Homo sapiens: one gene and its partners. The protein of the gene in region 4 purifies or fractionates together with the protein of the main gene of each other region. This does not show direct contact. Each region holds a gene or a part of one and is shown on either strand. Other genes may lie near its edges. The genes, in order: IPO7, RPL26L1, DHX36 and ZBTB38.

What was found.
Region 1: the proteins of ZBTB38 (region 4) and IPO7 purify together in Homo sapiens (affinity purification with mass spectrometry; 4 studies listed by BioGRID and IntAct, with this or other methods). This does not show direct contact.
Region 2: the proteins of ZBTB38 (region 4) and RPL26L1 purify together in Homo sapiens (affinity purification with mass spectrometry; 3 studies listed by BioGRID and IntAct, with this or other methods). This does not show direct contact.
Region 3: the proteins of ZBTB38 (region 4) and DHX36 purify together in Homo sapiens (affinity purification with mass spectrometry; 3 studies listed by BioGRID and IntAct, with this or other methods). This does not show direct contact.

The regions. Positions count from the first base shown.
Region 1 is NC_000011.10:9,435,620-9,443,651, reverse strand, and holds part of IPO7 (importin-7), read right to left. Parts: intron 7,382-8,032; coding exon 7,286-7,381; intron 5,899-7,285; coding exon 5,678-5,898; intron 5,573-5,677; coding exon 5,367-5,572; intron 3,198-5,366; coding exon 2,991-3,197; intron 1,572-2,990; coding exon 1,455-1,571; intron 1-1,454. UniProt on the Homo sapiens protein: Functions in nuclear protein import, either by acting as autonomous nuclear transport receptor or as an adapter-like protein in association with the importin-beta subunit KPNB1.
Region 2 is NC_000005.10:172,961,659-172,969,690, reverse strand, and holds part of RPL26L1 (ribosomal protein uL24-like), read right to left. Parts: intron 1,233-8,032; coding exon 1,092-1,232; intron 279-1,091; coding exon 150-278; 3' UTR 1-149.
Region 3 is NC_000003.12:154,321,488-154,330,017, reverse strand, and holds the start of DHX36 (ATP-dependent DNA/RNA helicase DHX36), read left to right. Parts: upstream 1-5,530; 5' UTR 5,531-5,601; coding exon 5,602-5,844; intron 5,845-8,530.
Region 4 is NC_000003.12:141,440,951-141,448,982, forward strand, and holds part of ZBTB38 (zinc finger and BTB domain-containing protein 38), read left to right. Parts: intron 1-1,438; coding exon 1,439-5,026; 3' UTR 5,027-8,032. UniProt on the Homo sapiens protein: Transcriptional regulator with bimodal DNA-binding specificity. Binds with a higher affinity to methylated CpG dinucleotides in the consensus sequence 5'-CGCG-3' but can also bind to E-box elements (5'-CACGTG-3').

The DNA of each region.
Region 1 (8,032 bases), on a different chromosome or scaffold from region 4:
GGATTACAGGCATGAGCCACCACGCCTGGCCAAGTGTTTAAATTTTTTTTTTTTTTTTTTGAGACGGAGTTTCGCTCTTGTTGCCCAGGCTGGAGTGCAATGGCGCGACCTCGGCTCACCGCAACCTCCACCTCCCGGGTTCAAGCAATTCTCCTGCCTCAGCCTCCCGAGTAGCTGGGATTACAGGCATGCCTACCACGCCTGGCTAATTTTGTATTTGCAGTAGAGATGGGGTTTCTCCACGTTGGTCAGGCTGGTCTCGAACTCTAAACCTCAGGTGATCCACCCGCCTCAGCCTCCCAAAGTGCTGGGATTACAGGTGTGAGCCACTGCGCCCGGCTTAGGTGTTTACATTTTTAACAGAACTTTCTACTATCTAACCATCACCATGAGCTAAAGTTATTGCAAACTGAAAGTAGTCTTCAACTGTACTTTTTTTTGTTTTTTTGAGACAGACTTTTGCTCTTGTCACCCAGGCTGCAGTGCAATGGCGTGATGTCGGCTCACTGCAACCTCTGCCTCCTGGGTTCAAGGACTTGCCTGCCCCAGCCTCCCAAGTAGCTGGGATTACAAGCATGCGCCACCATGTCTGGCTGTGTTCTCTAGTTTTTTTTGTTTCTGTTTTTTTGGAGATGGAGTCTCGTTCTGTTGCCCAGGATGGAGAACAGTAGTGCAATCTCAACTCACTGCAACCTCCGCCTCCTAGGTTCAAGCAATTTTCCTGCCTCAGCCTCCTGAGTAGCTGGGAATATAGGCATGTGCCACCATGCCTGGCTAGTTTTTTGTATTTTAGTAGAGACAGAGTTTGGTCATGTTGCCCAGGCTGGTCTCAAACTCCCGAGCTCAGGCAATCCACCCACCGTGGCCTCCCAAAGTGCTGGAATTACAGGCATGAGCCACCACACCTGGCCCAATTATACTTAAAAATAAACAAACTGGGGCTGGGTGTGGTGGCTCACGCCTGTAATCTCAGCAGTTTGGGAGGCCGAGGCGGGCGGGTCATGAGGTCAGGAGATTGATACCATCCTGGCTAACACAGTGAAACCCTGTCTCTACTAAAAATACAAAAAATTAGCCAGGTGTAGTGGCAGGTGCCTGTAGTCCCAGCTACTTGGGAGGCTGAGGCAGGAGAATGGCATGAACCCGGGAGGTAGAGCTTGCAGTGAGCTGACATCGCATCACTGCACTACAGCCTGGGCGACAGAGCAAGACGCCATCTCAAACAAACAAACAAACAAACAAAAAAAAACGAAAAAAGCCAACTGTAGCCAAAGCCAAAATTAAGTTATCTTGAATTAAATCCCTCAGATTAGAGTTAATTCCTATCACCTGCAACAACTATACCTTTTATATCATCTTAAATGATAAAATTTAATGATATAAAATTAAACGATATAAAATTTTAAACCTATAAAAGTCACTAATTAAAGAGGAGTTACAGTTAATTAACATACCATGGGCTGCTCTTCTTTGATCAGCCAGAGTTGCTATGTCCTGTAACTGTTTTCTTTGTTCTTCATTAAGACCGTGAGTCAGTGCCTGATACCACACAGGATTACGATTTTGAATAGCTATCAAAAAATAAAAACAAGGGAAAAACAACATGAATAAGAGAGGCTTGGTAGCTCCGTTCTACACTATTCCTCCTACTCCATCCCGAGGCAATACTGAAATTCTGATCTATTTTATATTCTCCCAATAATTTTTAAAATTACCATATTTGTGAAACAACAGATATAGGAATAAAAATTAACTACAGCTTATCTTTATGGCTCCAAAAACTCTAATCATTCTTACGATCCATCTCTCCAGCAAATAAGGACTCAGCCTAACTAGTTCTTATATAGTAAGTAACAAACCAGGGAGACTTCAGGAATAAAGCTAACCCAACCATCTTAAAAGATTCAGAGCTAAAGCAACTTGAAAATCATCAAGGCTACTGTGGTACATGGGCCCCGTGTTAGGAACCATTCTTTAGGGACTGACATGTGGTGTCTGTCTACAAAGTACAAGGCACAGAAACAACAAGTTTGGCACCTCAATCAGTTCTTGCTGCCATGTAGCTCAGAAACCAGCACTTTGTGCTTCTGTAACCTTGCATCAAAACTGCCTTGTCATGGGCTTAGAAGACTCAAATCCTTGGTTATCAGATAATGTATTCTATCAAAAAATATATTCATCAGTTCCCAGTGCATAGGAAATGATATATAACAGCAATTAACTCTGAGAGGAAAAGATGTTTCAAATACAGGGGAAATTTAATTTCTTAACGTGGATGGTAAAACACAAATGCTATACCTTGTTGAAATCCAAGTAAATGATGGTAAAAACCAACCAGAACCTAGTATTCTGGAGCCACATACAATGACACATTATAGGAACAGTGGACTTTTCTTGGAATATTTAACAGTGTACGTGGCTCCAGAATCCTAGGCATATATAATTCAAAAATCTCAAGGTTAAATTAGTTGTTTAAAGCTAAAAATTTGATTATGCCGAAAGTGCTAATTTAGTAATAATAGATTAAATTAGTTAACACATCACAGAATATAGGAAAAAAAGAATTATAAGATCATATGCCATAAATGCTAATATACTCTTAACACGTTAAGTATAGGTTTGGGCAGGAAAAAAGGATACACACAAATAATAACATACAACAAACAGGTATACACGTAAGAGTGGTTACTTCTGAGGAAAGCTGGGAGATTGGGAATCAGAAGTAGCAAAGAGGCACTGTCACTGTATACTTTTTTGAACTACATTATTTTCCTATAATCTTCCAAAATTACAATCTAAATGTAAAATAACAGGATGAATAAAGAATACTCAGAAACTATGGCAACCTTAGAAATAATTTTGGTTACTTTGCCTAACCAGCCTTTTCTAGTCTGGGTTTGATATCCTCCAAACTCTTCCTTTAAAGGGCAGGCAGAAACTACAACAGATTTGTTCAATGAAATGGATCCACATGTAACAAGTTGACTTACTTTGAAAGATAGCTTTAAATATCTGATACTCATCAACAGGGTTATCTTCATCATCAATGATTGTGGAATAGCCTTCCAGAGCAGTCTCTTCAGCATCATCTTCTTCCCAATCTTCATCATCTCCATCTTCACCAGCCTGCTTAGCCAGAATCTCCAAATATTCTTGCCCATCTTCATCAATATCATCTTCATCACTCCCCAGTTCCTCTGCCAAGTCATAATATAAGTACTTTTATAACAATGACATATTTTGTTACTCAACAAATTGACAATCATCTCAATCACTGTCAGTAAATTACAAGTCACAAGTGACAAGAGAGAGCTCCAGGAATTGGTGTTTAAATACATGTTCAATAATGAATAGAAATGAAAATTTCCATAGGAGTCCAAGAAAACCAACCTTGATTTAATGTGTTCTTAATACTAGACATCTGAAAAAGAACTGCGCAGTATGAACACACTACCGTTACACCCACCAAACCTTTTGTAAGATTTTTTTTAAAAGGCTGGCTAAGTTAGTAAATGATAAAAGACAAAAATAGCAATAGCTATCTTATGTTGAAACCCTTATAATAATTTCTCTTAATATTTTATCAATTTATACACTGATAGTGTACAGTCTTATAGATAAAATGTATTTATCAACATTTAATTAACATAATGTTATAGTGCAAGTATGCTTAGGTTTTAGAATTAATAGATGATAGGATGGATGTCTCCAATAAATTTAGTCAACATTAAGACCATAAATCTTTAGAAGCTTAAAAATAAAATGAAAACCCCATAATTCGCCGGGCGCGGTGGCTCACGCCTGTAATCCCAACACTTTAGGAGGCCAAGGCAGGCAGATCATGAGGTCAGGAGATTGAGACCACCCTGGCCAACACGGTGAAACCCCATCTCTACTAAAAATACAAAAATTAGCCGGTGTGGTGGCACACGCCTGTAATCCCAGCTACTTGGGAGGCTGAGGCAGGAGAATCGCTTGAACCCGGGAGTCGGAGGTTGCAGTGAGCCAAGATTGCCATTGCACTCCAGCTTGGCGACAGAACGAGATTCCGTCTCAACAACAACAACAAAAAAAAACAAACAAAAAAAACCCCCATAAATCTTGTAATAGTAACTATAATGATATGTGTACCTTTGTTAATACTGTTAATTCAGTGCCATCTGCCAAGCACTATTTAAGCGTCAAGGATTCCCTCATGTAATCCCCACAACTTTTTTTAAAGAAATGGGGTTTCACGGCTCAGTGCAGTGGCTCACGCCTGTAATCCCAGCACTTTGGGAGGCCCAGGAGGGTGGATCATCTGAGGTCAGGAGTTCCAGACCAGCCTGGCCAACATGGTGAAATCCTGTCTCTACTAAAAATACAAAAATAAGCTGGGCATGGTGGCACGTGCCTATAATCCCAGCTATCTGGGGGGCTGAGGCAGGAGAATTGCTTGAACCCGGGAGGCAGATGTTGCAGTGAGCCAAGATCGCGCTGTTGCACTCCAGCCTGGGCAACAGGAGCAAAACTCCGTCTCAAAGGAAAAAAAGCCAAAAAACAAAAAACTGGGGTTTCACTATGTTACCCAGGCTGGAATCAAACTCCTGGGCTCAAGCGAATCTGATACCTCAGACTTCCAAGTAGCTGGGACTATAGGCTCATGCCACCATATAAAAAAGGGAACTATAATCTCTCGCTCTTAAGTGGACTCAGCACTTCGTGTCAACTCTATTATTATATACATAATTATTTGGCTTTGTAATACTTTCCCACAGTCGGATAGAAAACTTTTGAAGAACTGCATGACATCTCATTCATCTTTGTATCTACAGTGCTGAGAATGTGTAAAATAAACAAATCTTTGTTGGTTGCATACTATAATGGTTTGAACTGTTCTACATGTTGGTAATACAGCTGAAGTTCCTGATTACATCACTCTAGTGAGAAGAAAGGAAGTCTTTTCTGTGAATGAAAGCATTTGGGTATGATCCCACATTTATTTGGGAGAAGGGCTAGTGATATATATATATATTTTTTTTTAATCTGAGATGGAGTCTCGTTCTGTTACCCAGGCTGGAGTGCAGTGATGCAATCTTGGCTCACTGCAACCTCCGCCTCATGGGTTCAAGCGATTCTCCTGCCTCAGCCTCCCAAGTAGCTGGGACTACAAGTGCCCACCACTACACCCAGCTAATTTTTGTATTTTTAGTAGAGGTGGGGTTTCACCATACTGGCCAGGCTGGTCTCGAACTCCTGACCGTGTGATCCACCTGCCTCAGCCTCCCAAAGTGCTGGGATTACAGGCCTGAGCCACTGCGCCCGGCCCAGTGCGGTAATATTTCTAAGTAGATAAGTTTTGTCTTCTTCCATTGAAAATCCCTTACCGGTTTCATCATCATCTTCAGCTTCATCATCATCATCACTGTCATTCTCATGTTCTGCATGGCAGGCATATGCTCTTTTCAATCCGTTAAATAAAAGGATAAAAGCCGGCAAAATCTGTCCAGAAACCTGATTTAAAACTTGGGGTATCTGTTCCATATCAATAAGAGCACAGAGTCCGAGAACACACATCTTTCTGTCATGAAGCCTAAAAAAAAAAAAAAAAAAAAAAAAAAAAAAAACTGTTTTCTTTTCTTAAATAAGCAGAGTTCCTCCCAAAGCAAATGTAGTAAAATTGCAATACATCACTTACCCCAAGAAACAGTCAACATCATTAAGCCACTGTGTAATAAAATGATTTGTAACTGGTTCAACATTATTAGGGAAGCGAAGATTTTCTAAGGTATTGAGTAGTAGGTGTGGATTATAATACAAAGCTGCAATTGCAACTTGCAGACACATAGTTCGAAGTTCACTTGTCTTAACCTCTCTTGTCAGTCTTTCTAAGGCTGCTTCCACGAATAAGGGAATGCACTACAAAAAAAGATAGCAAGATATTCTAAGACTATAATTAATAGCATGCAAACATTCTAAAAATATTAACTTCTTTGTTGCCTCAATTAACCCTATTGTAGCATTAGATGACCAATATTTACTGCTGAGGCACTGCACTGGGAAATCTAATTTTAGAGAAAGTCTAGTAGTCTTCATGGAGCTATTAAAAGCTCACGACGGGCCGGGAGTGGTGGCTCACGCCTGTAATCCCAGCACTTTGGGAGGCTGAGGCAGGCGGATCACGAGGTCAGGAGATCAAGACCATCCTGGCTAACACAGTGAAACCCCGTCTCTACTAAAAATACAAAAAATTAGCCAGGCGTGGTGGCGGGTGCCTGTAGTCCCAGCTACTTGGGAGGCTGAGGAAGGAGAATGGCGTGAACCTGGGAGGCAGAGGCAGTGAGCTGAGATCGCGCCACTGCACTCCAGCCTGAGCGACAGAGCGAGACTCTGTCTCAAAAAAATATATGAAATAAATAAAAAATAAATAAAAGCTCACGATGATATCAATCATGGCTTCACAAGTTCCTATTAAAATTGACCGTGGGCCGGGTGACGTGGCTCATGCCTGCGATCCCAGCACTTTTGGGAGTCTGAGGTGGGCAGAACACTTGAGGTCAGGAGTTTGAGACCAGCCTGGCCAAAATGGCGAAACTCCTTCTCTACTAAAAATATAAAAAATTAGCCAGGTGTGGTGGCAGGCACCTATAATCCCATCTACTCAGGAGGCAGAGGCAGAGAACTGCTTGCACCTGGGAGGCAGAGGTTGCAGTGAGCTGAGATTGCGCGACTGCACTCCAGCCTAGGCGACAGGGCGAGACAGCGTCTCAAAAAAAAAAAAAAAAAAAAAAAAAAAAAAAAAAATATATATATATATATATATATATATAAAATCAGGCGGTTGTGGTGGTGTATACCTGTAATCCCAGCTACTTGGGAGGCTGAGGCAGGAGAACTGCTTGAATCTGGTTGCAGTCAGCAGAGAATGTGCCACTGCACTCCAGTCTGGGCAACAGAGCAAGACTCTCACTCAAAAAAAACAAAAAACAAAAAACAAACAAAACAAAACAAACAAACAAAAAAACTGACCATGGATATTTAATTACTAAAGCTATCCAAAAAATCTTAAGCAAAAGTTTACCTTTCATGATAACAAAGTAGCCATAAAACTTAGTCCAATTCCTGTACATTAAACATATGATCATTATTATATATTAGTTACATTTTGAACTAAAAATATTAGTTGTCTAGATGTCTCAATAAACAAAAACATACAGAATATGCAACAAATGCCAAAAAATGAAGAAAGAAAGTGGAAGGAAAAGATTACCCCTCTGAACTACAAATCATTATTAGCTTCACTGACCTGGTCAATGCCACGCCCTTTGCACTGCAGAATGATGACCTCTAACAATTTTGCTGCATGACACTCTGCATCTTCTCCTGCAACTCCTGTAAGAACCTGATCAAAACAGAATATAAATTGCAGTAAGGCTTTATCCTTTAAATCAGGTATCTAAATCAAGGAAACAATTTCCTACCCTGTGTACAGGCTCTGAGTATTACTTGAGGTACCCTAATTAATATGAATAACTGCAATGTTCATTGCACAGATGAAAGACTAAAGGATCTGGATAGCTGTGAGGATCTGGAGCTGTCTGCCTCCTATCTTTCATAGTCTAGCCCTCTGGCATCTTGGTCTTTGTGATCAAAGCACCTATCCTGTAGTGCCATTCTGGATTACAGCAAGTTGACAACCACTAACTTCTCATACACAGGTGGTAGCTAAAACACCTAACCTTTCTCACGTAAAGAACTACAAAAAGCTAAGATGTTGACATTTCTAGGAAACCCTTTTCTCTTTAAAAAAGAAAACAACAATAACACAAAAAACCAGTAGGGGAGAGAGGAACGGAGGGAGGAAGAGGCAGCCTGTTGAGGGCAAATGTTGCCCTATAAACTCCAGACAAGAAATGAACATGGACTTGAAGGCTAGTGAAAACTAGATGAGTATAAACATATGAATAAGTGTTCAGGAATAGAAATGTAGATAGTATAGGTATATCTCTGCTCCCAGAATATTAATATAAATAATATAATTGGCAGTAAAAAA
Region 2 (8,032 bases), on a different chromosome or scaffold from region 4:
ATTATTACTTAAAATTGCAAAAGTAGATTTACAGAGGCACAGGTAACAAAACAGGAAATGAAATGTTCCAGACATTCCGAAAAGTTCGAAAGAAACACACCCTAGCCTCAAAATCTCCGGTTAAACCGTGGTTGCACAACAGGTTCTATTTATTCCTGCATTTTCTCAATAAGTTCTTCTTTATATTTGCCTTTCTCTTTTCCAACTTGTCGAGACTTGGCTTTGCGTTCAAGAATTTTTTTCCGATCCTTGTCCAGTTTTAGCCTGGTGATAACCACCTGTTGGGAGTGAGAAAACAGGTCTTTATTTCTGCATCCCCACCAGCTATTGAGCAATATAGACATCATAAGTTAAGTAAGACCTCAGCCATTCAGCTTTTAAGGAACTGAAACTCTGGAAGGAAAACAGACCCTGTAACACAATACAAAATAGGAACACAAAGGAAAAATAGCATGTTCCACTAGGTAGGCATGAGGGCTACAGGAAGATATATTCTCTCTTATTCCTCTGAATATTATGTGGTAGGGGAAGTGATGCCTAGAACACTTGGAAGCCTCTTGCAACCAGCTTAAAGACACAGCCATCGGCCGGCCATGATGGCTCACACCTGTAATCCCAACACTTTGGAAAGCCGAGGCGGGCGGATCACGAGGTCAGGAGATCGAGACCATCCTGGCCAACATGGTGAAACCCCATCTCTATTAAAAATATAAAAATTAGCTGGGCGTGGTGGTGTGTGCCTGTAGTCCCAGCTACTTGGGAGGCTGAGGCAGGAGAATTGCTTGAACCCAGGAGGTGGAGGTTGCAGTGAGCCGAGATCGCACCACAGCACTCCAGCCTGGTGACAGAGCGAGCATCCGTCTCAAAAAAAAAAAAAAAAAAAAAAAGACACAGCCATCACCAAGAAAGGCAAAACAGAAAAGAGAAGAGAAGAAAAATCTGGATCCTTGATGATATCACAAAGCTACTGAATCAATCAAGTCCACCTGGCCTGCCTCAGCCAACTGTGCAGGGAGTACCAAAACACCAATAACTTTGAACAGTATTGACACACTCCATGGCTGCTACTGCCACTCAGTCCTTGACCATACCTTGCTTGGGTGAATGCCCACGTGGACAGTTGTGCCGTTGGCCTTCTCACGCTGCACCCGCTCGATGTAGATGACATATTTCTTTCTGTACACCTGGACTACCTTGCCAATTTGCTGACCTTTGTAGTGTCCTCGAACTACCTAAGAGAAAATACAAAAGAGAATCCCCCTCCATTTGTAGTGCATGATCATAAAGAGGAAGCTAACCATCAGGAACACATGGGCTAAACATATAACTTTGTCAAAAGCAGCTTAATCCTGGCAGTCAAAAATTAGCTACTTTTCTGATATAAATCTGTGTTGTGCTATGGTTGGGTGGAGATTTTTTACCTGGATCCCACAGAAATGTGCGATATGAGCTTTAGAGGAAAAAGGAGAATACAAAACTACATATAGAATATACTCTGAACTATATATATATACATATATATGTCAAGTATCCCTTATTCGAAATGCTTGAGACCAGAAGTGTTTTGGATTTAGGGTTTTTGGGATTTTGGAATATCTGCATTACTAGCTAAGCACCCCAAATCTGAAAATCTGAAATCCCAAAAGCTCCAAAGAACACTTCCTTTGACCATCACGTTGACAAAGTCTCAGATTTTGGAGCATTCTGAATTTGAGATACTCAAACTATATGAGTGTATGTGTGTGTGTATATATATAATATATATTACATATGTGCGTATATGTATTTATATGTCATATATACATACACGTATCATATACATACACATATGTACTTATATGTAACATACATATATGTCATACATACATATATGTACTTATATGTCATATATACATATATGTGTATACATACGTATATATGTGTATATATGTATATATACACACACATTTCATATATATAGCATGACACAGTGGGATAAAATATATATATAAATATTGGTAACAGCTGCCATTAGGCAGGAAGCAGGATTACAGATGACTGATTTTTAGATTTATATTCTTCTAAATTTCAACATTTCTACATTTAATACAAATATTTTAAAGTCAGAAAAAAAATTTTAAATCTCACAGACTGTTTTACTGTACTAAAAATCTACTCTATTCAAAAACCAACTAGATTAGGGTTTCCTTGAAAGCAAGAGCTTATTTATTTATTTATTTATTTTTGACACGGAGTCTCGCTCTGTTCCCCCAGGCTGGAGGGCACTGGCATGATCTTGGCTCACTGCAACCTCCACCTCCCAGGTTCAAGTGATTCTCCTGCCTCAGCCTCCCAAGTAGCTGGGATTATAGGCACGCACCAGCAGGCCTGGCTAATTTTTGTATTTTTAGTAGAGACCAGGTTTCGCCATATTGGCCAGGCTGGTCTCGAACTCCTGACCTCAAGTGATCTGCCTGCCTCGGCCTCCCAAAGTGCTGGGATTACAGGTGTGAGCCACCATGCCCAGCCACAAGAGCTTATTAAACACCATGCATGGGGGCCGGGCACGGTGGTTCACACCTGTAATCCCAGCACTTTGGGAGGCCAAAGCCGGTGGATCATGAGGTCAAGAGATCGAGACCATCCAGGCCAACATGGTGAAACCCTGTCTCTACTAAAAATACAAAAATTAGCTGGGCGTGGTGGTGGGCGCCTGTAGACCCAGCTACTCGGGGGGCTGAGGCAGGAGAATCACTTGAACCTGGAAGGCGGAGGTTGCAGTGAGCTGAGATGGTGCCACTGCACTCCAGGCTGGCGACAGAGCGAGACACCGCCTCAAAAAAAAAAAACCACCAGGTACGATGTGACTCTGATTAATAAGCATAGAGGAGATACCACATATAAAGAACTAGAGAACCCCAATACTCCTAAAATGTCTACGTATAGCTTGTTTGGCTTATTTTCCAAGGCGATTTTTAGGTTGAAGAGGACAATCATATCTCAGTGAAAAATCTACCACAGACTACATGACCAGAGACTCTCAGGACACACCTGGAAGAAGTCTTGTTAATACCATCAAGACTGAAGAAATACACACATACACACTTTTTTTAAGAGACAGGGTTTCACTATGCTGCCCAGGCTGGTCTCAAACACCTGAGCTCAAGAGATCCACCCACCTTGGCCTTCCAAAGTGCTGGGATTACATGTGTGAGCCACTGCACCTGGCCAAGACTGAAGAAAGATCTTAGGCCGGGCATGGTGGCTCACAGCTGTAATCCTGGTACTTTAGGAAGCTCAGGCAGGTGGACTGCTTGAGTCCAGGAGTTGGAGACCAGCCGAGGCAACATAGCAAGACCCCGTCTCTACAAAAAAAAAAAAAAAAAAAAAAAAAAAAATAGTTAGCCAGACATGGTGGCATGCGCCTATGATCCCAGCTACTCGGGAGGCTGAGGTGGGAGGATCACTTGAACCCAGGAGGTTGAGTCTGCAGCAACCTGTTTTTGCACCACTGTACTCCAGCCTGGGTGACAGAGTGAGATCCTGTCTCAAAATAAAATAAAATAAAAAATTAATTTAAAAAATTTTTAAAAAGAGAAGTGGACAACCTCTGGACATAGTGAAGAGGAAGACAGGAGACAGGATAAGACTAAGTCGGCTGGTCGACTAGACTGGAGAGGTGAGGATGAAGAGGGAAGGATGATACTCAGAGTCTGGCTTGGGCAACCAGGTGGATGGCAATGCCATTGCCAGATGCAGAGATCATAGGGGAAGCCCCGTATTTTAGGAGGAAATAGTTTAGTTTGGAACATGCTAAATTTGAAGCATCTGGGGACATTCTAACAGAGAATTCAGACACAGCTGGAATGCCAACTGGGCCAGCAATAGAGACGTGGGAGTCATCCACAGAGAGGCAATTAGGAGCTTCATGTTGCTCAAGGAGTGATGGTATGAGAAAAGGGCAGAATGTACACATGTGAGAAAAGCCAGCATTTTGGAAGAGCTTGTGAGAGATTAATGTGGCCAGAGCGAATGGGAAATCATGCAAGTGTGGTGTTACAGCAGCCAAGAGAATGTCAAATTCTGTGGGACTGTCAAGAACACAGAGGATAAGGTATTTAACAGATCTGACAACAAGGTCATCAACAGTGGCTGTGGCTGGAATGCCTTCACTGAGTGCTGGGATGGAGGCCATTAACAGTAAAGTGATGAGTGTACCAGGTGAGAAGGTGAAGGTGAGAAAAGACAGTCCAAAGGAGCTTGGCTCTGAAGATGAGAAGGGGATAGATGTTTGAGGGGGATGGAAAGCTAAGGGAACTTTCCTTTATTTTTTATTTTTAAAGAAGGGAAAACATGATTGTGTTTAAATGCTGATGGAAGGAACAAGTATGGAGGAAGACGGTAAAAGAAACTACAGAGAAAGAAGATAAGGGACCAAAAAAGCTCCAAGAGAAGAATGGAGCAGCACCCAGTGGCAGATGGATTAGGCTTAGGCAGAAACAGGGATATTTCTTTCTTTTTTTTTTGAGACAGAGACTTGCTGTGTTACCCATGCTGGAGTGCAGTGGCGTGATCTTGGCTCACCACAACCTCCGCCTTCTGGGTTCAAGTGATATCTCATTGCCTCAGCCTCCCTTGTAGCTGGGATTACAGGCATGTGCCATCACGCCCAGCTAATCTTTATATTTTTAGTGCAGACGGAATTTCGCCATGTTGGCCAGGCTGGTCTCGAACTCCTGGCCTCAAGCGATCCACCTGTCTTGGCCTCTCAGAGTGTTGAGATTACAGGCGTGAGCCACTGCACCAGGCCTGGGATATTTCTTTCATTGTAACAGAAGGGAAAGAAAATAAGAGGGGTGGAACTACAGGTAAACGTGTAGGTGTGGAGCCACGATTTCTGAAAGTTCCTGGCTGATAACTTCAATTTTCTCTGTAAAGTAGGAGGAACCATCACCTACTCAGAGAAAGAGGAAGGTAAGTGAGATTCAGAAGATCCCGTGAGAGGAGGCAATATTAACAAACCCAATCAGGGCTATTTTATTCTCCTGGTGGAGAAGTGTTCAGCCAGCATGGCCTTTGGCTGAAACAATTCATACCTCTTAGGCATTCAAAAAATGGCAACAGGCAGCCGGGCGTGGTGGCTCACGCCTGTAATCCCAGCACTTGGGGAGGCTGAGGCGGGTGGATCACCTGAGGTCAGGAGTTCGAGACCAGACTGACCAACATGGTAAAACCCCGTCTCTATTAAAAATATGAAAATTAGCCAGGCATGGTGGTGTGTGCCTGTAATCTCAGCTACTTGGGAGGCTGAGGGAGGAGAATGGCTTGAACCCGGGAGGCAGAGGTTGCAGTGAGCCGAGATTGTGCCACTGCACTCCAGCCTGGGCAACAAGAGTGAAACTCTGTCTCAAAAAAAAAAAAAAAAAAAAAGGCAACAGGCCAGACACTGTGGCTCATGCCTGTAATCCCAGCACTTTGGGAGGCCAAGGCAGAAGGATTGCTTGAAGCCAGGAGTTTGAGACCAGCCTGGGCAGCAAAGCAATACCTATTTTTAAATAAATAAATAAATAAATAAATGTCTCTAATTTAAAATATATATATATTTAACAGCAGCTCCTTCTCCCTCTTTGCCCTCCTTCTCTGTCTCACCTTCTACATCTTACCTACTCAAAAAATTTTTTTCATTCATTCAACAAATATTGACTGACCCTTCTCCTCTCTAAGTGTCAGGCTCTGCACTGAGGTCAGACAACAAACAAGATGAACTCTCTGGTTTCATGGAGCTTAGCCTGATGGCCAGTAAGCAGTTAATGAGTACATAGACAAATACATGACCACTAACTGGAATAAGTCACATAGGAACTTACTGGGATGATTAAAAATGGTCTTTTTAATGGTCTAATCATAATTAGGGTAATGGCTATTTGGTTTTACATTTGCCAAAACTGACCTGTGCATTTTACTGTGTGTAAATTATGCCTCAGTTAAAAATAAAATGATTTCAAATTGTGCTTACTGCTACGAAGAAAAAATAAAGAATGCTAGGCTATAATATTGGTTAAAGGATCTGGGAAGGCTTCTCTGAGGAACGGACATTTAAGGTAGGACCCGAAGAATGAGGAGTTACCTATGTAAAGGAGAGAAGGAAGAGCACTCCAGGCAGAGAGAACATTCCAGCGGGAGAAAAGATCAAGGTGTATTTAAAGACCCCAGAAGCCCAGTGTGGTTAAAGTGTAGAGCACATGGGGGTTAGGAGGAGATGAGGATGGAGAAGTAGACCAGGATTGGCCCATAGAGGGCCTTGCAGTCAATGATTTTAGATTTTTTTTTTTTTTTTTGAGACCGAGTTTTACTCTGTTGCCCAGGCTGGAGTGCAGTGGCGCAATCTTGGCTCACTGCAACCTCTACCTCCTAGGTTAAAGCGATTCCCCTGCCTCAGCCTCCCGAGTACTTGGGATTACAGGTGTGTGCCACCACACCTAATTTTTGTATTTCTAGTAGAGGTGGGGTTTCACCATGTTGGCCAGGCTGGTCTCGAACTCCTGACCTCAGGTGATCCACCCACCTCAGCCTCCCAAAGTGTCGGGATTACAGGCGTGAGCCACCGCGCCTGGCCATGATTTTAGATTTTATAAGCACATCAGGCACCATTGGTAAGCACCTGGCTAACTCCTCATTTCTCAGGTCTTCTCTTAAATGTATTAGTTCCTCAGAGAAGCCTTCCCAGGTCCTTTAATCAATATCATAGCATCCTTTATATTTTCTTCATAGCAATGAACACAATTTGAAATCATTTTATTTTTAACTGAGGCATCATTTACATACAGTAAAATGTACAGGTCAGTTTTGGCAGATATAAAACTGCCAAAGGATTTTTTTTTTTTTTTTTTTTTTTTGAGACAGAGCCTCACTCTGTCACCCAGGCTGGAGTGCAGTGGCATGATCTTGGCTCATTGGAAGCTCCCCCTCCCGGGTTCACGCCATTCTCCTGCCTCAGCCTCCCAAGTAGTTGGGACTACAGGCGCCCACCACCACGCTCAGCTAATTTTTTATATTTTTAGTAGAGATGGGTTTCACCGTGTTAGCCAGGATGGTCTCAATCTCCTGACCTCATGATCTGCCTGCCACAGCCTCCCAAAGTGCTGGGATTACAGGCGTGAGCCACTGTGCCTGGCCGTTTTTTGTTGTTGTTGTTGTTGTTTTTGAGACAGAGTCTCACTCTGTCACCCAGGCTGGAGTGCAATGGCACAATCTCGGTTCATTGCAACCTCCGCCTCCCGGGTTCAAGCGATTGTCATGCTTCAGCCTCCCGAGTAGCTGGGATTACAGGTGTGCACCACCACGCCTGGCTAATTTTTTGTATTTTTAGTAGAGATGGAGTTTCACCATGTTTCCCAGGCTGGTCTCAAACTCCTGAGCTCAGGGGATCCACCCGCCTGGGCCTCCCAAACTGCTAGGATTACAGGCGTGAGCCATCATGCCCAGCCTGCCAAAGGTTTTAAATAGGACCTGATTTGCAAATAATACCACTCTGTGGAAAATGGACAAAGGTAAAAGAGGGAACTGCAATGCTGCCTTGAACTGGACAGGAAATAGGTTCAAGACTTACTTTGGAGGTAGAATCAACAAGCCTTGATGGTAGATTACAAGAGGGGGTTAAGGAGCGTTGTTAAAGATAACAAAGGTTTAGGGGCATATGCAGCTGGGGAGATATAAATGGCACTTACTGGAGATGTGGAAGATGGGAGTAGAGTTGGATTCTGGAGGCAGTGAGAGTGTTAGGATCAAGAGTACTCTTAAGAAGCTTGAAATGTCAATGGGCTACCTAAATAGAGATGTTCAGTAGGTAGTCAGATCTATAGGTCTGTGTTATAGGTAGTCAGATATACAGGTTGTCTAAAGTGGTCTGGACTGGGATATAAAAGAGGGAGTTGTTAGCACACAGCAGACATTTAAAGCTCTAAGAACGGATTATTACCTATTCTTTACCTACGTAGAGAACACAGAGCAGAAAGAGATGCTAGATGTGTCCACTGGATTCAGTCACGAAGGG
Region 3 (8,530 bases), about 13 Mb from region 4:
GTCATGAGGATTGTGTGAAATGAGATAAGGAATTGTATTACTTTTCTAGTGTAGCCATAAGAAATTACTACAGTCTTAACTAACACAAATTTACTATCTTACAGTTCTGTAGCATAATGTTTTGACAAGAGTCTTCACTGGGCTAAAATCAAGGGGTCAATATGGTTGTATTTCTTTTTATTTATTTATTTTTCTTCCTGTTAGATGAGCAATGTGCCGATGTCATAACAAGGTTCGAGGGTGGCACATCTCACACATGTGCACGAATACCCAATCATCATGCTCATGAACTGCAAAAGGATCAGTATGGTTGTATTTCTTTCTGGAAGCCCTGGGGGAGAATCTATTTTCTTTCCAGTTTCTAGAGGCTGCCTGAATTCTTTTGCTTGTGACCCCTTCCTCCATCTTCAAGGCCAGCAACAGCTAGTCAAATCCTTATGTCACATCACTATGACCTTCTGTTCTACCACCCTCTTTCACTTTTAAGGACCCTTATGATTACATAGGGCTCACCCAGATAATTCAGGATATCTTCCTGTTTTAAAGTCAGCTGCATTCATCAGGTTTCCCAGAGAAACAAAACTAATAGGACAGATATAGATACACAGAAACTGAGCTATATCATGAGAGATTGGATCACATGATTATGGAGACTGAGAAGTCCCACAATATACTTTCTATAAGCTGGAGACCTAGGAAAGCTGGTGGTGTAGTTCTAATCCAAGCCTAAAGGCTTGAGAACCAACAGTGCTGATGTCCAAGAACAGGAGATGGATGTCATAGCTCAAGAGGAGAGAGTAAATTAGCCTTCCACCTTTTCATTCTACTTGGGCCCTTAATGGATTGGATGAAGCACACTTACATTGATGAAGACGATCTTCTTTAGTCAGTCTATGAATTCAAATGCTAATCCCTTCCAGAAACACCCTCACAGACCTACCTAGAAATAATGTTTTACTGGCTCTCTGAGCATCCCTTAGCCTAATTAAGTTGACATATAAAATTAATTATCACATCGGCTGATTAGCAACCTTACTTTGCCCTGGCCATGTAATATATTCACAGTTTCCAGGGAGTTTCCATGAACATCTCAGCCAGGCACAGTTGCTCACACCTGTAATCTCAGCACTTTGGGAGGTTGAGGTGGGAGGATCACTTGATCCCAGAAGTTCAAGACCAGCCTGGGCAACATAGCAATACCTCATCTCTACAGATAATAATAATAAAAAAAATAGCCAGGCATGGTGGTGTACACCTGCAGTCCTAGCTACTTGGAAAGCTGAGGTGAGAGGATTGCTTGAGTCTGGGAGGTCGAGGCTGTAATGAGCCATGGTCATGCAACTGCACTCCATCCTGTGCAACAGAGTGAGAGCCCACCTCAAAAAAAAAAAAAAAAAAAAAAGACAAGGACATCTTTGGGGCCATTATTCTGCCACAAATGCCTGCCACTTAGTCTAATACCTAGCAAATGCTAAGTGACAAATAAACACTAATTCTCTTCCCCTCTGACTCTCCATATTAGTCTGTTTGTGTTGTCATAACAAAACGCCACAGCCTGGGCAGCTAAAACAACAGAAATGTGTTTCTTAAAGTCTGGAAACTAGGAAGTCCAAGATCAAGGTGCCAGCTAATCCAGTTCCTAATGAGAGCTGTCAGCGAAGAGTCAAACTCTAAAACATTTGAAGAGATTTATTCTGTGCCAGATGCTAATGTCCATGGCCCATGACACAGTCCCAGGAGATACTGAGAACATGTATCCAAGGTGGTCAGGGTACAGCTTTGTTCTATATATTTTAGGGAGACATAAAACATCAATCAATACATGTAAGATGCACATTGATTCCATCTGGAAAGGTGGGACAACTCAAAGGAGGAGGGAGTTTTCCAGGTCACAGGTGAATTCAAAGATTTCCTGATTGATTGAAAGAGTTTATCTAAACACCTGGAAACAACAGAAGGGACTGTCTGGGTTAAGATAAGGAGTTGTGAAGACCAAGGTTCTTATTATGCTGATAAGACCTCCAAGGTTGCAGGCTTCAGAAAGAATAGATTGTAAATATTTCTTATTCAACTTAAAAAGGTTCCAGACTCTTAGTTAATCCTCTTCTGGATCATGGAGAAGAAATGGAAAGGGGGAAGGAGGTTCTCTACAGAATGTAGATTTTCCCCATGAGAGACAGCTTTGAAGGGCCATTTCAAAATATGTCAAATAAATATATTTTGGGGTAAAATGCTTTCTTTCAGGGCCTACTACTATGTTGACATCATATTGCTACAAAGAGTCTGTTCTGTCAGTCTTAAGGTCTCTGCTTCAATGTTAATACTGGTCAGCTGTACCTGATTCCAAAGGAAGGAAGGTATAATGAGGCATGTCCAACCTCCCATTCCCATCATGGCCTGACCAAGTCAGGTTTACTTTAGGATGCTTTTGGCTTAGAGGACGGGTCCATTCAGTTGGTTGGGAGGGCTTCCAATTTTATTTTGGGGCAATGTGCGGTGGCTCACACATGTAATCCCAGCACTTTGGGAGGCCGAGGCAGGAGGATTGCTTACACCCAGGAGTTCAAGGCCAGACCAGCCAAAATAGGAAGACCCCATCTCTACCAATCTTTTTTTTTAATTAGCTGGGTGCGGCAGTACGCGTCTATGGTCCCAGCTACTTTAGGGGGCTAAGGTGGGAGGATCACTTGAACCAGGGATGTTGGGGCTGCAGTGAGCCATGACTGTGCCACTGCACTCCATCCTGGGTAACAGAGTGAGACTCCATCTCAAAAAAAAAAAATGTATTTTTGGTTTACAGAGCTATTCCTGGAGCATGGATGGCTGCTGTTTTGTCCTCACATGGCCTTTCGTCTGAGAGGGAGGAACAAGCTCTCTGATGTCTCTTTTTAAAGGGCACTAAACCTATTATCAGGATCTCACCTTTATGACCTCATTTTGCTTTAATTACATTTTTTAGAGGCCTCTTCTACAGCCATATTGGGAGTTAGGGCTTCATCATGAATTTTGCATGAACACAAAGATTTAGCCCATAACACTCTCACCATTTTCTTCCCACTTTGCCCCTATCATCTTCAGTATGCCTACTCAATCTCATCTCTTAGACAGTTGACATATTTTTCACATCAGGAGTGCCCAATTGGGATGCTTTTATAGAAACTATTCATTCCTACGGCCTTAATCACATGTGCCAAGGACTCCCAAAACATATAATTTCAGTCTACTCTCTTTGTACTTTTAACGTTTCAACTTTTCTTTTTTCTTTTTTTTTTTTGATGGAGTCTAGCTCTGTTGCCCAGGCTGGAGTGCAATGGGACAATCTTGGCTCACTGCAACCTCCATCTCCTGGGTTCAAGTGATTCTCCTGCCTCAGCCTCCTGAGTAGCTGGGATTACAGGCATGCACCACCATGCACAGCTAATTTTTGTATTTTTAGTAGAGACGGTTTCACCATGTTGGCCAGGCTGGTCTCAAACTCCTGGCCTCAAGTTATCTGCCCACCTTGGCCTCCCAAAGTACTGGGATCACAGGTGTGAGCCACCACACCTGGCCTCTGTGCTTTTAACTCTTACAGCCTGCTTTCTAGATACTCCATTTGTATGTTTCATAAGTTCCTCAAAGTCCACATGTAAAAATAAAACACATTAACTTGCCCTGCCCCTCACCCCCAAAATGTTCCTTGTCCTGTGTTTCTCATCTCAGGATACAATGTGCCTCCCCATGGGTTAATAATTCAAATCTTAAACTTGGAGTCGTTTAACCCTTCCAATTCTCCACATTCAATGAATCATCAAATTTAAGTAATTTTATCTTCTAATGTCTCCTGATTCCAATTCTTTCCACATGTAATGCCCTGTCATCCCATTTTGCCTCCCCTACATCACATTAACTAGTTTCCCTGTATCCACTCTTGTCTCCGCTATTTATTTCCAATTGAAGCAGTCAAAATAACCACTGCTCTGCATAAACATATCACTGTTCTTTAAGTGGCACATAAGTTTTCCATAATCAGACCCCTATCTACCTCTTTGGCCTTCCCCATCAGGCTTTAAGATTCAGGGTAGTTGTTTTAAGTTCTCCGATGTCTCACATCATTATCTGTCTTTACACATTGTTCCTTTCACCTGCCATACTTTTCTTCTGCCCATTAGTCTGGCAAAAGTCTACTTATCTCAAAAGTTGTTGCATAACTCACCTAACTCCAAAATTAAATTCTTTTGCTGTAGTATCTCTTGGCTCTTAGGGAGGAAATACTTTTTGTCTACTTTCTTAGATTCAGTGTTTGCAGGCCCCAGACTTAAAGTGACAAAACAGATTAGCAAAAGAAAAGACAGACTTAACCACATACATAATAGAGTTCACAGAAAAAGGTGATTCAGGGAGGTAGAGTTCTGACTTATCTACCATCTTATAAAGGGAAGGAAAGGGGAAAACAGCACGTATGGAAAAAACAAATGACTTTTAGTAAAAATAAATGACACCTTAAAACAGATGCCAGATATGATAGCTTTGTGACAATGTCTATTCAAGTGTGTTGCCAGCTTCTAACCTCCAGTGATAAGAGTCAGTCTTCCTGGGTTTCCCTCCCAGGGAGGAGCTTGATTTGAATTCCTCCGTGTGGTTCTGCATTTAGACAGGTAGATTTCAGAAACTCAAATGTCTTTGCTCAAAATAATTTTTAGGCCACAATGGTGTATTGTAGACCCCTTCCTGGCATACAGCATTTCCCTTTCTTAATTCACTGCACAAAGATAGCCTTTGTCTTTCCCTTAAGACTGTAGGCAAATAAAAGCTCATGCCATACTTGCTTTGTTCAGTGAGTATTCCCAGCACCTTTACATCAGTTAACTGTAACATGAGCTGGATATCTCCTGGTGTACATCCAAGCCTGTGTGGCCCAATTACTTGATTATTCAAGAACAGCTTGTACAAAACACTCAGTGTGCTGGTTAATAAACAGTATGTGGCTTCATATGAACACATGAATCTTCAAAGTAGTTTATTTACATTGCCTAAGAGCTCTGCACCGAATTTGGGTAGACACGCTCATCTTAACACTATTGGATAAACGTACTAAATAGTGACAACACTTTCAAGGAGGTAAGGGGATTTTAAATTACATATTTGAATAGTTGTCAGGCTGTTTTCAAGACTAGAAGAACTCATTTTTTAGAGACTTTTCTTTAGAAGACGGCGAATTGATCCAAGGGTTCTTTTGTTTCAATCAACGTTTACTACCCTAGGACCTAAGTGCAAAAAAACTGCGGATTTACCAGGAATAAGAAAGTAAAAACCAAAAGCTATTGGCTCACTTGCTGGGCCTAGGGAAAGAAAATCTACGAGCCTTTGGCTGGCTGTTGCTCCAGAGGTACAAAGATAAACAACTCGGGGGCTCAGACAGAACCTGATCCCTGCCACCCTCCAGACCACCGGGGTCGTCCTCCCGTGACGTCACCAGAAACCACTGCTTGTGACGCTAAATGGCCCGCCCTCTTGTGCGGTGCTACGGAAGCAAAACGGAAGTGGGCGCACAGTGGCTTCCGGGCCCGGACGCCATTTCCAGCGGTTGCTGGTTCTGACGGGTTGTAGTCTGCCAGGACAATGAGTTATGACTACCATCAGAACTGGGGCCGTGATGGGGGTCCCCGCAGCTCCGGTGGGGGCTATGGAGGGGGGCCAGCAGGGGGTCATGGAGGTAACCGAGGCTCCGGAGGAGGCGGCGGCGGCGGAGGGGGTGGTCGAGGCGGCAGGGGCCGGCATCCCGGGCACCTGAAAGGCCGCGAAATCGGCATGTGGTACGCGAAAAAACAGGGGCAGAAGAACAAGGAAGCGGAGAGGCAAGAGGTAATCTCGGATTCAGTAGTGGAGAGGATGAGGCAGCACAGGTTTTCTTCTCTCTCCCGCTGCCCCCTTTTTCTTGGTTTTGTTTCTTAAGTGATGCACGTGTTTTGTGAAATGTAAATGAGGCGCAAATATATTATGCTGGCGCTCCCCGTAGCGGGTGTACTGCGTAACATTAGCCATGCTCATCTGACCAAAAACAGGCAGGATTTATGCAGGCTGAATATATACTTTGCTTAAAGGACTTGAGAACTGTGACAAAGCAAATGTTAAGTTCACGTTCCAACCGAAATTAACTTTATTAGGAGTGTCGTTGTCGTATCTCTGGCCGTCCTTTCCCTTAGAATAATAATTGTCACTTTAAGGTCTTTGCCTGGTGAAGAAGCACATAGCGACCTTTCTACATTTGAGATAGGTTTGCGCGGAACAAAAGCAGGCAGACACTGTTTTGGATGTGGATCATTCAGAAAAATAGTCCAGCTTTTATTATTAGTGTTAAAATTATCTGCAAACCTAGGTTTTTGTTTTTTATGTTGGGGTGGAGAAATTTCTATTGATGAGCAGATTCTCTTTGAAAAGGAAAATGAAAGGAATCTCCAGAGATGATTTGGCTTACTCTCCTCTCTTCAGGTGATTGTCAGGTTGATTTGTGTCTTAAAGATCTGTAGTAAGGGAAACAAAGTTCTCCGAGTGACTAGTAAATAAAATTCTAATAAAAAATAATTTTTATCATTAAGCAGGAACTTTCTTAGTATAGGCCTTTGGTGACTTTTTAAAAGCACCTTATAAAATGTATTATAGAGTGTAATTAGATCATCATTTAGGCAACTTTTTTTTTTTTTAAGACAGGGTCTCACTCTGTCGCCCAGGCTGGAGTGCAGTGGCACGATCTTAGCTCACTGCAACCTCCGCCTCCCAAGTTCAAGCGATTCTCCTGCTTCAGCCTCCCGAGTAGCTGGGATTACAGGCGTCCGCCACCACCTCCGGCTAATTTTTGTATTTTTAGTAGAGACGGGGTTTCACCATGTTGGCCAGGTTGGTCTCGAACTCCTGACCTCAGGTGATCCACCCAACTCGGCCTCCCAAAGTGCTGGGATTACAGGCGTGAGCCACCACGCCAGGCCTAGACTACTATTTTTAAACCGTTCCATTTCTTTTTATTTCTTTTAACCATGTCATGTTCATTCAGGTGTTTTGGGGGCCTTATCCATTTATCTTCATAATTTAAACTTTTCTTTAAAAAACAAATCCATTTCTTTTACAGCCCCAAATTAACTTTTTCGTTGGGCATACTGGCTTGAAAATCAGGATACGGACGTCTAAGTAACTTTACAACTTTTATTTATTAAGGCTCTGTTTGAAACAAGGTTTTATGCATATTGCTCCAGGGACTTGAAGAAATGTGGTATTCAAAGAGCTTACAGTCTAGCTGAGAAAATAATACCTAAACAGATGAAAAGTTAAATAAGTCAGGAAAAAATGTTCATTATTGTTTCCACATGAAGGGTATAGCCAGTTGTGCAGTGGATGTTATGAATGGAACTTTTCATTTCTACTTGCGTTCCCATCCTCCTTTTAGTGGTGACACGACCATTTATTCACTTGGCAAGGCCAAATGAGATTTATCTTTGCTTCTTCCCCTTCATTTCAGCAAATCTCTGCCTTGTTAATATATCCCAATCTAACCACTTACCTCCAGAATAGTTACCATAGATCAAGCCACTGTTTGTTTTCTGTTCTTGCCTTCTAACTAGTCATCTAGCTTCCATTCTTGCTCTGCATTGTCTGTGCTTTACAGAGCCGCCTATGGTGATCTTTTAAAAGGAAAAATTAGATCATTTTATTACCTAATTCACAACTTCAGATTGGAAGTCATGTCACTTCTGTCTCAGTCTGATATATTTCAGTTGCATCTTGACATGTTCTCTGGAAATCTTGGTAATACGGCTTCAACGTAACAGGTTTACCGCTGTGCACATTTCTCTGAGCCCATGTCTCCAGTCTGATATAATTATAGTTTTTTTAGGCATACTTTATTTTTACTTTTCATTACAGTGTCATACTGTTCTCCTGTCCAAAATGTACCTTTCTTTCTTGTTTAAATAGGAGTATTTTTCAATGGGCTCGTCCCAGCTCTTCTTTGACCACCTTTAGCTTGATATCATTGTTTCCCAGTCAGAATTTCGGTAGCTTTCACTTTTAAAGTCATGTCATGTGTTTTCAAAATGAAGACTTTTTTTTTTTTTTTTTGAGTTGGAGTCTCACTCTGTTGCCCAGTCTGGAGTGCAGTGGTGTGATCTCGGCTCACTGCACCCTCTGCTTCCTGAGTAGCTGAGATTACGGGTGTGCACCACCACACTTGGCTAATTTTTGTATTTTTAGAAGAGACAGGGTTTTGCCATGTTGGCCAGGCTGGTCTTGAGCTCCTGACCTCAGGTGATCCACCAGCCCTGGCCTCCCAAAGTGCTGGGATTACAGGCGTGAGCCATGGCGCCTGGCTGAAAATGAATGCATTCTAATGATGCATTCTTGAACAAATGTTCTTTCAACAAATATTTATTGAGGACATTATTTTTGTGACAGTATCTTAAGCACTGTATTAATTAATAAAATAGATATAGGCTCTACAGAGATTGTGGTGTGTTTGGAGCGATAAATAGAATACAGTATTAAGGTATTAGAGAATATG
Region 4 (8,032 bases):
TTGAACCCTGGAGCCGGAAGTTGCAGTGAGCTGAGATCATGCCATTGCACTCCAGCCTGGTGACAGAGCGAGACTCAATCTCAAAAAAAAAAAAAAAAAAGAAAAGAAAAAGAAAGAAAAGAAAAATACTAGAGCAGAACAGAATGCATCACACCTAGTAAGGGTGAGTGTTAATTTCATTTGTGTCTTAGGTCACTATGTACTGTGTATCTCTTACTGTGGGAAGTATGAAAGCTGCTACTTTTCACTGCCCCTCACTATAATATCAGTTAGTAAGCTTTAGCACACCAGACTCATGGAATAGGACTTATATAGAGAATATAGAAAATACAGAGAAGAATGGAGATGGGATCCTCAGACCAGAACAAGAGCCACTGTGCCTTGAAGTTGTGCTAATTCAGGAATCTATGACTAGATTCATTCTTGTCCGTTCTTGTCAAAGGACTTAGAAATGTCCTTTCCTGGTTTTACATTTTGTCTCCTTTTTAGTTGCCTTCAGTACCTGACAGTTCTTTTTGAAAACCCTAGTCTACTTTGTCTCTACTAAAGGGGAAACTAGAAAAGGAACCTGATGAGTCACCATAGGGCCAATAGCGCAGAGAGGCGGGGGTGCCCCTGGTGGTCAGACTTGGTTACACACCCTGCAACTCTAGAGATTGACCCTTATGAGCCACAAATTAGGAAGGGCTCCTTCAGTTCTTGCTTCTTCTCTGAGTGGGCAATAGCTTTGCATATAGGTACCACTTAAGGAAAATTCATTTAAAAAAATAGCCTGGGCAACATAGCGAAACCCTGTCTCTACCAACAATACAAAAATTAGCCGGGCGTGGTGGCTCTCACCTGTGGTCCCAGCTATTCAGGAAGCTGAGGTGAGAGAATCGCTTGAGCCGGGGAAGTGGAGGTTGCAGTGAGCGGAGACCACACCACTGCACTCCAGCCTGGGCAACAGAGCGAGACTTTGTCTCAAAAAAAAAAAAATCATTTTCCTGCTTCATGGTTGTGACTGGATCATCAGATTTCTCTTTGAAAATAGGCAGGAAGCTTCTGGCAGGACCATGGCATTGCCCAGCTCTAGTAGTTCAAAGCAGCAGCCTTGAATGATGATGAGACCCTTAACATTTCAGAAAAAAAAAAAAAACCTCCTCCCCTCCCAAATTTGGACATGTATATATAGCTCCAACTTTGGAGAAAAGGGGAAGGAGTTCTGGGAGGATTTCCAATGATAACAACTATTAGCAATGGTATGAGAAACAGGCTGGGGCAAGAAAAAGATTTAGCTTCTAATGTTGACTCTTGAGTCTCGGGAGCATCAACAGAATGAGATAAAAACCTGAAGTTTCATACAAAAGAACAGTTTTTCACAGAAGTGGAAAATAGTCTAGAGATAAAGAAGCCACCTGTGGAAGATTATCTGACCATTTCTCTCCTCTTGTTTCAGATGACAGTCATGTCCCTTTCCAGGGACCTCAAGGACGACTTTCACAGTGACACGGTACTCTCCATCTTAAATGAGCAGCGCATTCGGGGCATTTTATGCGATGTCACTATCATTGTGGAAGATACCAAATTTAAAGCCCATAGCAATGTTCTGGCAGCTTCAAGCCTGTATTTTAAAAATATCTTTTGGAGCCATACAATCTGTATTTCCAGCCACGTCCTGGAGCTGGACGATCTCAAAGCTGAAGTGTTTACTGAAATACTTAATTATATCTACAGTTCCACAGTCGTTGTCAAGAGACAGGAAACAGTCACTGATCTCGCAGCTGCAGGAAAAAAGCTGGGAATATCGTTCTTGGAAGACCTTACTGATCGCAACTTCTCAAATTCCCCGGGTCCCTATGTATTCTGTATTACTGAAAAGGGAGTGGTTAAAGAAGAAAAAAATGAAAAAAGGCATGAAGAACCAGCCATCACTAATGGGCCAAGGATCACAAATGCATTTTCCATCATCGAAACAGAAAATAGTAATAACATGTTTTCCCCGCTGGACTTGAGGGCAAGTTTCAAAAAGGTCTCCGACTCCATGAGAACAGCTAGCCTTTGCCTGGAGAGGACGGACGTCTGCCACGAGGCAGAGCCTGTCCGCACACTTGCCGAGCACTCATACGCTGTTTCTTCCGTAGCTGAAGCTTACAGAAGTCAGCCTGTACGTGAACATGATGGCAGTTCACCTGGTAACACAGGGAAAGAAAATTGTGAAGCCCTTGCAGCGAAACCGAAAACATGCCGGAAGCCAAAGACATTCTCCATACCACAGGATTCGGATTCAGCCACAGAAAATATACCACCCCCTCCAGTATCCAACTTAGAGGTTAATCAAGAAAGAAGTCCACAACCAGCTGCTGTTCTCACTCGTTCAAAATCTCCAAACAATGAAGGAGATGTCCATTTTTCCAGGGAAGATGAAAATCAATCTTCTGATGTTCCCGGGCCGCCAGCCGCAGAGGTTCCACCTCTGGTGTACAATTGTAGCTGCTGTTCCAAAGCCTTTGACAGCAGCACTCTGCTCAGTGCCCACATGCAGCTTCACAAGCCAACCCAGGAGCCTTTAGTGTGCAAGTATTGCAACAAACAATTCACCACCCTGAACAGGTTGGATCGGCATGAACAGATCTGCATGAGGTCAAGCCACATGCCCATTCCTGGAGGAAACCAACGCTTTTTAGAAAACTATCCTACCATTGGACAAAATGGAGGTTCATTCACAGGTCCAGAACCTTTATTATCTGAAAATAGGATTGGTGAATTTTCCAGTACCGGAAGTACTTTGCCAGACACGGACCACATGGTTAAATTTGTTAATGGGCAAATGCTCTACAGTTGCGTTGTGTGCAAACGTAGTTATGTGACCTTATCTAGCCTCCGAAGACATGCAAATGTTCACTCCTGGAGAAGAACATATCCTTGCCATTACTGCAACAAAGTATTTGCATTGGCTGAGTACAGGACAAGGCATGAAATTTGGCATACGGGAGAAAGACGATATCAGTGCATTTTCTGTCTTGAAACTTTCATGACCTACTATATACTCAAAAATCATCAGAAGTCTTTCCATGCCATCGATCATAGACTTTCCATCAGTAAAAAAACAGCAAATGGAGGCTTGAAGCCTAGTGTCTATCCGTATAAACTTTATAGGCTACTGCCTATGAAATGCAAGAGAGCCCCTTATAAGAGCTACCGAAATTCTTCCTATGAAAATGCACGAGAAAACAGTCAAATGAATGAGTCTGCACCTGGTACCTATGTTGTTCAGAATCCACACAGCTCTGAATTACCAACGCTGAATTTCCAAGATACTGTAAACACCCTGACCAACAGTCCAGCCATCCCATTGGAAACATCTGCATGTCAGGACATACCCACTTCTGCCAATGTACAAAATGCAGAGGGTACCAAATGGGGAGAGGAGGCATTGAAAATGGATCTTGACAATAACTTTTATTCAACTGAGGTGTCAGTTTCTTCCACTGAAAATGCTGTCAGTTCTGACCTCCGGGCAGGGGATGTACCTGTTTTATCTTTGAGTAATAGCAGTGAGAATGCCGCCTCTGTGATCAGCTACAGTGGCTCTGCACCCTCGGTCATTGTACACAGCAGCCAGTTTTCATCGGTGATCATGCACAGCAATGCCATTGCTGCCATGACCAGCAGCAACCACAGAGCCTTTTCAGACCCAGCTGTCAGTCAGTCCCTGAAAGATGACAGTAAGCCCGAGCCAGATAAAGTGGGTAGGTTTGCAAGCAGACCCAAAAGCATTAAGGAGAAAAAGAAAACTACATCACATACCAGGGGAGAAATACCGGAGGAGTCAAACTATGTTGCTGATCCTGGAGGATCACTGAGCAAAACCACAAATATTGCTGAAGAAACCAGCAAAATTGAAACCTACATTGCAAAACCTGCTCTGCCGGGAACCTCCACAAATAGTAATGTTGCACCCCTTTGCCAAATAACAGTGAAAATTGGAAACGAAGCCATTGTGAAAAGGCACATTCTAGGATCTAAATTGTTTTATAAAAGAGGGAGAAGACCCAAGTATCAGATGCAGGAGGAGCCTTTGCCACAGGGGAATGACCCAGAACCCAGTGGAGACAGCCCACTCGGGCTTTGCCAATCCGAGTGCATGGAGATGAGTGAAGTGTTCGATGACGCAAGTGACCAGGATTCCACTGACAAACCGTGGCGCCCTTACTACAACTACAAACCCAAAAAGAAATCCAGACAGTTGAAAAAAATGAGGAAAGTCAACTGGAGGAAGGAGCACGGAAACAGGAGCCCGAGCCATAAATGTAAATACCCAGCAGAACTGGATTGCGCCGTGGGGAAGGCTCCTCAGGATAAACCCTTTGAGGAAGAAGAAACTAAAGAGATGCCCAAGCTGCAGTGTGAACTCTGTGATGGAGACAAAGCAGTGGGGGCTGGAAACCAAGGAAGGCCCCACCGACATCTTACTTCTCGGCCATATGCCTGCGAGCTCTGCGCCAAGCAGTTCCAGAGCCCTTCCACACTCAAAATGCACATGAGATGTCACACCGGGGAGAAGCCATACCAGTGCAAGACCTGCGGACGGTGCTTTTCGGTGCAAGGAAACTTACAGAAACATGAACGCATCCACCTGGGCTTGAAGGAGTTCGTCTGTCAGTATTGCAACAAGGCATTCACCTTGAATGAGACCCTCAAAATCCATGAAAGAATCCATACTGGAGAAAAGCGTTACCACTGTCAGTTCTGCTTTCAGAGATTTTTGTATCTCTCCACCAAAAGGAATCACGAGCAGAGGCATATTCGGGAGCATAATGGGAAGGGCTATGCCTGCTTCCAGTGCCCCAAAATTTGCAAAACAGCTGCTGCCCTTGGAATGCACCAAAAGAAACACTTATTCAAAAGCCCAAGTCAGCAGGAGAAAATAGGTGACGTGTGCCACGAAAACTCAAATCCCTTGGAGAATCAACATTTCATTGGTTCAGAAGACAATGACCAAAAGGATAACATACAAACCGGTGTGGAAAATGTTGTCCTTTGAGTGGCAAGAATTAGAAAAATCTTCAAAAATATAGTTGGTGGTTTTTTTAGTTATGATTTAAGTTTAGTTTCATTTTGTCCATGTGACAGTCATGAAGGAGTGAAATTAAAAAAAAAAAAAACTCATTTGTGAAAATTCCAGAAAAAGGATCCTAATATCTACTTTGGGTTTTAGCATTAACTTTATGCAAAGTGCACAAAAACAAAATAGCTGACTCCTCCAATATCCCAAGTTTCTTGTGAAAGTTAATAAAATTCTTAGCTGTGGTATTTCTACCAGTGAAAAAAGGAGTTTAATTTTAGCCTAGTTTAAAACTTTCTAATAATTGCTAATAAGAACTGGCTGCTGAACTGTCTTTAGTCACTGGAGAAAATAAGGGTCAGATATCCTGAAGATGGCATCTTCGTAAATATGTTACGTGGTAATAAGCTGTGTGACGGTCTTTATTCCCATCTGGCTTCTGCACTATTAAAATTTGTTTAAATTAATGGATACACATGAAATACTTAAACAATATAACTGAAATTATGTGCATAATGAGTAACCTAAAGTAGGACATTCATACATTATGTAGAACTACTTTTCTGCAACACAAACCTTGTAAAATACATATATAAATCACTATAACTTTTAACTGTCCATATCCCCTGTAGAGAATTATGAGGAGCAATAGATCTGCAAATAATGAGGACTGATGTAAAAATCAATAGAAAGCATTTTGAATATGATTTAAGAGCATGTGAATGCTTTTAGATGGAATGCTGTTCCCTTGAAGTTATGGCTGAGCTGTTCTTAGAACTGGTCTACTCAATTCACAGAAAACATAGGTCATGCCTTATCTATGGGGGAACACCCTCCCAGAATTTACCTGTGATTACCTGTGCTGCATATTACTTTGCAATGGCCTCATCTCAGAGAATGAAAGAGGGTCACATTGTTCTGAAACTCTCTGCAGTCTTCCAACCACCACAAGGCCATGGATGTGGGGGTCTATTCCAGACAGACTTAAGGGCTCAAGTGGAACCTGCCATCTCCCATTCCACTGAAGGACTGTCCAAGAGATTTAGTGCAAGGTACACTGCAGTAGTGAATTCCCAGGCACTTGAAAGTGACTGCCTAATCCCTACAATTACTAGCCTTGTTGGAGATTATGCAGCCCACAAGTACAGACTAGTATAAAGCAAAAGGACAAAGGAACCCCCACCCTCCACCCCACCCATTAATGACTTGAGTGGGCAAGAAGAAGTGATGGCCTTCCTTGCCTAAAACAGTAGCTTTGTTTTTAGGGGGTGGGAAGGTAGGATGTGGAGTGACATGGTTCTATCCTTTACTTATGAGACTCAGAAATATATCTACAAAGCCAGATGCTCTGTCTTCATATTTGCAGACATCTAGACCCCTTGCTAAAAACCCACTGAAGTTTTTTTTTTATGTTCTTTGACCCACACCATCAACACTACCCTCAAATCTAATTGCCCTACAGCATATTCTATCATGTGGACTAGGTTCCTGGAAAGCCGGAACTCATGATTCTTTTTCAAACTGCCAGAATAGAAGGGAGAGAGAAAACATTTCTACCCTTTGATCACCAGTGTGAACAGAATCCGGAATGCAGTTTCAGCGTGACCTGCAGTCATTCATGTTCATTGGATTTGACAGATGGAAACCCAAGGTTATCGAAGATTGGAAGGTTATCATTGTGAAGAAGTAGCTCAAAGGACTCCGGTTTCTGTCTACAAGTGTGATGTCTCCATGAAGAAGACTTAGTATGGATTTGGGTGGGTAAGAAAGCATTTAAACGCCCAGGAAAGGACATGATTAAAGTTGACCTTTTAATACTGTAGTACCTTGCTGTTAAGTAACCCCACTATTGTATCTGCATTTATCTTTTGTTCATCTACTTTCACTTACATACAGTATTATATAAGTAGAGAAAAATGGGAAAATGCAAGCAAATTCAACTTTATTTTATACATTGTATATATGTACACCCTACACTATTCATTTGGGTTTTATTAAAGAGATAGTCACAAAGGGCTTACGAAAATCATTTTTGAATTGATAATTAGAATATTGAATAAGCAATCCTATGATCCACTAATTTGTTTTATCAGTTAATAATATTAATCAAAGACATTTACTGTATATTCTAGTCATTTTGATTTGAGTTAACCCCAAATATAAAATTACCTGTAGTGATGTCTCTCTCCCAGCCCTTATATGTGGATATTTTTTAAGTGGACTTGTATGCTGATAATTCTAGACCAAAGTAAATATGGCAGAATATTTATACATGAAAAAATAATTTTGCAAATATTTTCTATAATTGTATTCATTTAAAATGTTGATAGCTTGTGTTAGTTTCAGGGAGGGGTGTATATTTTGATAAAAAAATACTTGACTTTGTAATTCTGTATATTCTATACAATTTATAGCAGAGCCGTTTTAAGACAGCCTTGTCACATTTTTTTGTTAATTGTGAAAATTTTATTGAGTGATGTTTAAGTATGCATTGAGTACATGACCAACTAGAATTAAAGTAAGTGTAAACAGTGAACATACTGTATGCTGTACAAGATATAATGTAACTTGCTGTTTTAGCATCTGTATTTTGGTTAGAAGATATTATTAAATGCAGATGTTAAGGATTGGAAAAGTCTAATTTTATTTTTAGAAATAATGGATATAAATTTGTTTTTGCTTGATTAAAATAGCTTATTCCTACATTAAGTCTCTTTTTAAATGTTTTCATGTTATTTCTTTTGTGCAGCTATTTCATCTGTGTGAGTCACAGCTTTGTTTCCACGTATTATTCAGTTTATTTCTGTTTCCTTACTTGTTTACATTCCGTGGTACCTACTTACATGCTTAGGAGTCAAATGGATTATGACATTAGGAAAAAAGCAGAATAAAAGAGATTGAAGTCTTCTGATGATTGAGTGTTTTGGATAGGCCTGATCTTATAATGATAAATCAGAGAATGAAATGCTCTCCAGGAAGCATTCT